Regions from separate parts of the Homo sapiens genome. Here regions 2 and 3 are each linked to region 1. The links come from fine-mapping of genetic effects on gene expression. A gene starts in region 1. Each other region holds a variant in brackets. All regions are shown on one strand. Distances are between the middles of the regions.

What was found. PIP is the estimated chance that this variant, and not a neighbour inherited with it, causes the effect.
Region 2: its variant is the best candidate, but not a certain one, in a credible set for the expression of SFMBT2 in monocytes (Schmiedel 2018, PIP 0.87).
Region 3: its variant is the best candidate, but not a certain one, in a credible set for the expression of SFMBT2 in whole blood (INTERVAL, PIP 0.60).

What each region holds. Positions count from the first base shown.
Region 1 is chr10:7,409,561-7,412,403 of GRCh38, forward strand. SFMBT2 (Scm like with four mbt domains 2) reads right to left here and starts at 1,474. Exons shown (of 21, transcript NM_001387889.1): 1 at 1,301-1,474. RefSeq lists a silencer at 1,348-1,487 and enhancers at 1,723-2,643, 2,644-2,843.
Region 2 is chr10:7,178,756-7,181,598 of GRCh38, forward strand. All of the region lies in intron 16 of SFMBT2 (Scm like with four mbt domains 2), which reads right to left. Among named protein-coding and RNA genes, the nearest start is that of SNORD129, 6.6 kb to the right of the region's middle. The variant G/T (reference allele first, on the strand shown) is at 1,377.
Region 3 is chr10:7,499,113-7,501,612 of GRCh38, forward strand. No RefSeq gene overlaps it. Among named protein-coding and RNA genes, the nearest start is that of LINC02642, 28 kb to the left of the region's middle. The variant CT/C (reference allele first, on the strand shown) is at 1,071.

The DNA.
Region 1 (2,843 bases):
TCGGTGCCCTGGTCCGGGCCAGGGGCACTTCTCCATCCCTTTCCCCCCTAGCAATGGACTTGACACACAGACTCTAACCACGGAAAAAAAAAACCGGACAGCCCATTCCTTCTTTTTTTCCCCACTTAATTCGCTAAAGCGCTTCCTGGGGTAGCCAAAGAGAGTCGAAACTAAGGGGTGGAAACTTCAGCTGGGTTTTTTCCCACCTCAAAACCTTTATTTTCAGTTTTTAAAAGCCACCTTAGCCCGCCATATTGAAACTGGCACGGTTTCTAAAGACTCCTTCCCCGCAGTTGTGGCGCTTCCAAGAAAACACGAGTACGGATCAGGCTCTGGATGAGTGTCCGGCCACCGAGAATCAGCCACTTCCCACCCTCCAGGATCCCCCAGCTCCCTCCAGCCCCTTCCCACCGCCCCTGGTCAAAATCAATAAATACATCTCGCAGTTCCTACAGTTGCATTTTGGCGGATTTCTGCAAAACATACACACACATACACATACCCACGCACGCATATTAAAAAATAAACTCCAGAACCAGCTCAAGTCAGCAATTTTGAAAGGGGGTCGAATAAGAGGAGACAACCGGAAAGCCCCTAAGTGACAGGATATTACTTTAAAGAGAAAATAATGAACAAAAAGACCATCCTCGCTGGAGCACGCTCCAAAACTACTACTGCCAATTTTATTTCAGTTGCTCAGGCAAATGTTTCCAAGGGAGCGATTCCGAATGTCTGCACGATTTTTACCCCCATGCCGGTCTCCGATTCCCCGTCCTCACCATCTTTTTCTCCCACCCAAACCAAAAGAAAGGGGAGACCCCAGCGCGGAGGAGACGCGGGAGCGCGGGGTAGGTAGCAGCGGCGGCTGCGTCGCTAAAATGAGTGCAGAAACGAGGAAGGTGGGCGGCGGGAGGGGACAGGCTGCGCCCGGGGAAGGAGGACACTTTGCAACTCCGGACGGACTCCCGCACGGCTCGGCTTTTCCGAGCCCGGAGACGCAGGCGAAGGGGACCCGGGAAGCAAAAATGACAACCTGGAGCGCACAGAGGAGTTTGAAGCTTCGCTCAAGTGCAGTCGCTTTCTTCTCCTGCCCTTCTCTTTCGCTCCCCTGCACCCTCCCCAGCCTTCCCCCACCCGCCACCTCCAACCCCAGCTCCCTCAGGCTTCCTTCCTTTTTTTTTTTTTCCTTTTTTTTCCTAGGCTGGAAAAAGCCCCTGACCAGCGCACTCAACCTGCGGGCCGAAGGGCTGCTCTCCGGCCAGCCTGGGCGCCGGGGACAGCAGCCGGCGCGGCGTCCTACCTGGTGAAGTTCGTCCTGCCCTCGGCGTGGACCCAGGCCCCGGTCGCCGCCCGGGAGGGCACCGGCCTCGCTCGCTTGCTCGCTCGCCCGCCCTTGCCCGCTCGCTCCCCGCCCGCCGCCTCCCTCGCGCGCCCGCTCCGGTCCTCCGGCTCCCACTACAGCTCATTCCAATATGGCATCCTCTCTGTGCGCATGCTCGGCGCTCTTTTTTTTTTTTTTTTTTTTTTTTTTTTAAGATTTTGTGTGTGTGTGTATGTGTGTGCGTGCGCGTGCAGCGAACTCCTTCAACGACCTTTTCCAGCGCTTGCAAAATTTCTTAAGCCAATTAGCCTGCGGGACGTGATCGGCTCCTTCCCCAGCCAGCTCCGCGCCATTCCCTGCGCCTAAGCAGGCGGGCACCCCCAGGACCCTGGGACCTTCCACGCCCACGCGGCCTCCTCCCCACCGCGCTCCCCTTCCTCCTTTTTGTGAGCTCCCTCCATACATGATCTGCAGAAAGTTCCCATCGCGGGCGTTTCCGCACACCCCTCCGCAAGGACAACTGGGCAAACTCCCGTTTCCCTGGCTGCGGTTCGTGAGCTGGGTTTCCAATGGCTCAGTCGACCGTGTGCACAAACTTGCGCTTTATCCGCCGGGGATCGCTGGGAGCGGAGATAAATTCAATCCCCAGGGCAATCTTGGCCCCGCCCGCCCCACCCCATCCTGTGCTTAAATAGAGCCTTTCTTGAAGCTGCGAACATTTCCAGGCCCCTTGGGCAGGGCTGGAGGGGCCGAGGAGAGCTATTCGAGGGAAAGGTGCCCCGAGGGGCAGGAAATTAAGTTGGGGCTGCCCGGGCGAGCTGCCAGGTAGCCGTGCTCGCCACGGCGTCTCATGGGGCACCTAGCTAGTGGCGGGCCTCATAGGGCGGGAAAAGAATCGTCGCTCACACCCCAGCAAAACGTGGCCCTCGACGGTCCGTTGGAGAGCCCCGGCGGCCGTGAGCCCCGGGCAGGGCTGGACGTCTGCGGAGCCCTCGGGCACTTTGTCCCGGGCGCCTGGGGAGGAACGCGGAGCTCCCAGGGCCTTAGGTGCAACGGCTGCGCAGAGCCCAAACGAAATGTCCCCAGTGCGGAAAAGCCGGTGACGCCCTGGTAGCAAGACCAAGAGCTTCCGAAGAACGCTGCGCCCTTAACTAGGGGGCCTCGCAGAGATGCCTGTGTGGGCCTGCATTGTATATTTCTGCGAAATAGCGAATGGACACGTTTGCTCAGGGTTTTTATGGTTGCCAAAGGGGGTAAAATTACCCAGTCCCCCAAATCTGTGTCCCATGAATCCCTCTCATAGTACCCCTCTCCAGGGGGCCAAGAGGTCCTCCAGGTCCCCGTGGGTTCGCAGCTCCACCCGCCCTTCCTCGCCCTGCATCCCTAAGGAGAGGTGTCCGCTCTGAAGGGCTAGGGGCCAGCCATGGAGTGAGGGGACCGGGGCTGACCACGCGCGGCACAGACAGAGGTCCTCAGGCGGGCCCTCTCCTGGACGGTGGGGCCGGAGCTGATCTAGAAGAAA
Region 2 (2,843 bases), 230 kb before region 1:
AAAATTAGGCACTACAGCCCTTATCCAAATATTTATGGGAATATGATATACATAATGCCTGGCTGAAAACACAAGCACTTGTAGGTTTCAATCACCTTTTGACAGATTTTTAACCCTATCATGGGGACAAAGTAATGGTCAGCTTCTCAACTGGCAACAGATCATAGGTTTTTATTTCGTTCACATATCACCAAACTACTGAAATATGAAATTCCAGCTTTTTAGGAATGTCTTTCTAAAGACTGGAAAAATACTTTTCCACTAATAAATCTTTTTTTTTTAAAGTATCAACGGCAAAAAAAATTAAGGATTAAATTCCAACTTGTACTTTTTATCTGCATACTCTACTAAATTTACTTCATATTTATTCAGGGTCTTTCATATCCCAGCCCCTGGGTGTTTGTTTTTCTTCAGTTTCTCTGATGGGTCGAGCTTGACTTTCCATGTAGTGAGAACTAGAAAGTAATCTTCTGTAGATAAGATCATGCTTTAAATCCTACAGCCTTGAATGGCTGTTGGTTTTTCTAGGCCCTCCATTGACCCTATGTGTAGAGACTTCCCTCTCCGTGCCTTTGAAGAGGGACTCCAGGACCCACGTTGGGGCGGTTCTTGCTTATTGCTTTTGTTGCATTTTCGAAAAAAAAAAAAAAAAAAAAAAAAACAAAAGAAACAGCACAACTGGGAACACCGTATGTTCCTCGTGTTGTGGGAAATGGAGAGTAAAAATGGGAAATGTAGAATAAAAGTGCTTCACGGCTACATTTTCCCTTGCAGTTTTATCCACTACGAGTTTGGTGGCCCCACAACTTTGTTGGAAAGAGCTCACTATCGAGATTCTTAGAGTCCCTAGAAAAATAAAATAATGAGACATAAGAACGCAGGAGAAATGTGCAAGCCAGGTCAGAGGACAAACTGCAGAACAAGGCTCAAAGATGAGACTGCTCATCAAACCTCCAGGTGACGAAGCACACACACGCGCTGCCACATCGGAGCGACGGATGAAGGGAGCGGTTATCTGGGGGAAACAGAACCAGGCTGGCTTAATTTTCTCTTCCTAGTTTGGGATGATTTCACGGAAACAAGTGTTTCAGTAAAAACTTTCACAATAGGGAAAAGCCCATCTAAAGGTATGAAGATTTAAGTTATAGCATCATTTAAAAACAGCGGGCTCCTTTTCTCTTCCCTGCCCTTCCTGAACAATTCTGTTTAGAAGCCATGGCAGTGAGGGGTAGAGGGGACTGAGTAAGGATAGGGCACGGGCTGGGGAAGCTGGCGGATGGCGTGCTGCCTGGACCCCTTCACTGGGGGGCTTGTTGCCCCACCTGCTGGGAGAAAGCCTTCAGTTGTGGCCCTTTTATTTAGGTTTGCTTTTTTTT[G/T]CTTTTTTTGAGACAGGGTCTCACTTAGTCATCCAGGCCAGAGTGCAATGGTGCAAGAGCTCAGCTCACTGCAACCTCTGCATCCTGGGTTCTAGCGATTCTCATGCCTCAGCCTCCTGAGTCACTGGGAATACAGGTGCCCACCACCACGCCTATAGTGGTAATTTTTTTTTTTTTTTGTATTTTTAGTAGAGATGGGGTTTTGCTATGTTGGCCAGGCTGGTCTTGAACTCCTGACCTCAAGTGATCTGCCCGCCTTGGCCTCCCAAAGTGCTGGGATTACAGGCGTGAGTCACTGTGCCCAGCCCCCTTTAGGGTTTTGCAAAAAGCTGCCTTGGCCCTGCCCTTCCCAGAAGGGCCCCATCCAGGGACTGACTGTGGAGGAGGTAAAAAGGTCACTGGGGCCCAACTCCGGACAGCCATGAAGAGCCTTTAACCCCAGAGCTGCTGCGGGTGCCTGCCTGGCCTCACTGTGGGATGATCTCTGTCTTCTCAATCCCACTGCCTTCCCCTCCCTTCCAAAGGCATTGGTCCCAAGGGCCCTCCTTGATGAAACCCATCTGGGAGGAACCCACCAGGGAAAAGGATGGAAGTGCGGGAGGGACGCAGGGGGGAGGCCGTCGCATGTGGGGACAGCTGTTGGGAGGGTGAGGATACTGGAGAGACGCTGGGGCCTGACGAAATAAATACATACTCCAAAGGTGGAGAGCACAGGCCAGGCTTCCACTGTCACAGCCGGAGTTGCAAGTATAGGGAAGGAAAAGGCTAGGATGAACCCTGGCATGCTGGACTGGAATTGGAGCCTACGTTCCACCACAAGCGCACAGAAAAGGGTGAACACAGCAGGCCTGAGCCACTCCCGTTAGAAAAGCCTGCTTACAGGCAGATCACGAGGTCAAGAGATTGGGACCATCCTGGCCAACATGGTGAAACCCCATCTCTCCTAAAAATACAAAAAACAGCTGGGCATGGTGGTGCACGCCTGTAGTCTCAGCTACTCAGGAGGCTGAGGCAGGAGAATCGCTGGAACCCAGGAGGCGGGGGTTGCAGTTAGCCGAGATTGTGCCACTGCATTCCAGCCTGGGTGACAAAGTGAGACTCCATTTCAAAAAAAAAAAAAAAAAAGTACAGGTACATCCCTAATCAGAAAATCTGAAATTCAAAATACTCCAAATTCTGAAATTTTTGAGTGTCAACATAATATAAGTATACTGCAAGTATTCCAAAAGCTGAAAAAAGATGAAATCCAAAACACTTCTGGTCCCAAGCAATTGGAATAAAGGATATTCAACATGTATTTGGGGGTGACGGGGCATCAGGCCTTCAACTTATCCCAAATCAATCAGGAGAATGAATAGTATCTTTATTCTGTACCTCCAATATTTCTGTAAGTATGAGATTGTTTCAAAAGCACTTAGAAATAATATAAAGGCATGTAGTCATATAATGACTCAAACTATACCAAGC
Region 3 (2,500 bases), 89 kb after region 1:
GGCTCACATCTGTAATCCCAAGCACTTTGCGAGGCCAACGCAGGAGGATAGGTTGAGGTCAGGAGTTCAAGACCAGCCTGGGCAACGTAGTGAGACTCCCATCTCTACAAAAATCTTAAAAATTAGCCAGACATGGTGACATGTACCTGTAATCCTAGCTACTCAGAAGGTGGAGGTAGGAGGATAGCTTGAACCCAGGAGTTTGAAGCTTCAGTGAGTTATGATTGTGCCACTATACTCCAGCCTGGGAGACAGAACAAGACCCCGTCAATAAAAATAAAATTATATAATTATAATAAATTAAACAATTAAGTTATAAAAAGTTTTTAAATAAAAATGTATAAAGATATAAAATAGAAATATAAAACATTTAAAATATAAATTATAAAAATATAATTATACAATTTATAATTAGTTTTAAATTATAAATTCAGTGGATGCATTAAATCAGTAAATAATTTTTAAAAAGTAATGCATCTCCAAAGTGTGATTTCAGTTTTGCTAATGCTGGGCCAAGATTTCAGCTTCTGCTCAGCTCGAATCCATATTTTCTCTGGGAAGTTACCCATTAGCCTCATTTATGATCTATCCTTGCTTCACAATGTTCTAAATTCCTCCTCCAGGGCAAGACCCTTCTCTTTGCAGCGCACAGTAAGGAGCTTCTAGCGCGAGCAAGAACAAGCTCCTGCACCATCGCTCAGCACTGCTTGTAGACCTCTCACTAGATCGTAAATTATTTAATGGCAGGAGTTATGTCATCTCTCAACTTTTTTTTTTTTTTTTTTTTTTTGAGACAGAGTCTCGCTCTGTCGCCCAGGCTGGAGTGCAGTGGCGGGATCTCGGCTCACTGCAAGGTCCGCCTCCCGGGTTCATGCCATTCTCCTGCCTCAGCCTCCCAAGTAGCTGGGACTACAGGCGCCCGCCACTACGCCCGGCTAAATTTTTGTATTTTTAGTAGAGACGGGGTTTCACCGTTTTAGCCGGGATGGTCTCGATCTCCTGACCTCGTGATCCGCCCGCCTCGGCCTCCCAAAGTGCTGGGATTACAGGCGTGAGCCACCGCGCCCGGC[CT/C]TTTTTTTTTTTTTTTTGAGATGGAGTCTTGCTCTGTTGTCCAGGCTGGAGTGCAGTGTCGTGATCTCGGCTTACTGCAACCTCCGCCTCCCGGGTTCAAGCGATTCTCCCTGCCTCAGCCTCCCGAGTAGCTGGGACTACAGGCGCAGGCCGCCATGTCTGGCTATTTTTTTTTTTTTTTTTAAGTGGGGACAGGGTTTCACCGTGTTAGCCAGGATGGTCTCGATCTCCTGACCTCGTGATCCACCCGCCTCAGCCTCCCAAAGTGCTGGGATTACAGGCGTGAGCCACCGCGCCCGGCCAGTCTCTTAATTTTTTTTAATGCCCCAGAGCAGCCAGCACGGTGCCCTGCACCTCAGGAAATGTGGAAACTGCTAGTCCGTACGTGGGCAGAACACACGCTCTCATCTCTCTACTGGAAAAAAGCCTCCGGGTGGGCAATGGGCTGTGGGCGGCTACCTGTGTCTGCTGGATAGGCCCATGAATCCGGGGTGCAGAGGGGTTGGCTGTGGAGCCAGTGTCCCGCCTCTCCCTGCGGTGCAGCAGGAGAACTCTCATGAAACGCTGCAGAATGGAAATAAGAATCGGCTGGGCACGGTGGCTCACACCTGTAATCTCAGCACTTTGGGAGGCCGAGGCAGGTGGATCACTTGAGGTCAGGAGTTCAAGATCAACCTGGCCAACATGGCAAAAACCTGTCTCTACTAAAAATACGAAAATTAGCCGGGTGTAGTGCCACACACCTGTAGTCCCAGCTACTCGGGAGGCTGAGGCAGGAGAATCACTTGAACCTGGGAGGCGGAGCTTGCAGTGAGCCGAGATTGCACCACTGCACTCCAGCCTGGGTGACAGAGCGAGACTCCATCTCAAAAAAAAAAAAAAAAAAAAAAAGAATCGCCCCACTCCAGATCAGAATCCTGGCTGCCTGAGAGGTAGCTTAGGGTTGCTACAGTCCACAAGGGTCAAGTTCTGGAGGAGGAGTGGAGTGGAGTCGGTGGAATGGAGTCACATCTGCATCTCCTTCCAGCCGGGCGCTGCCCACAGTGACCATTTGCCTCACTCTAGAGGCGCAGGCCACCGTGGAGCTGTGCTGGTGGACTGGCAGTGGTGTGCAGTTTCCTCAGCTGCACCTCTGCATCCCGCAGAGCAATGTCCCAGCCTTCACAGGCAGCTGCTTCTTCCCACCATCCCAGCACCGTGGCACTGTCCCAATGCAGTGCTCCCGCGGCTCAGGGGACTTGCGTCTTCTGACCACTTCCTGGCTGACTGTCACCTTCAACTCTTGATAAAGCAGCAGTTTCTATATCCTCCATCGTCTTGCCCACCAGCCATGATTTTCTGTTAGGTCTCACCTCAATTCCTGAGGAACCGACTATATAATGTGATTGAAGATGGGTCCCATCTATCTAAAGGTGATGCTTGGACCTTG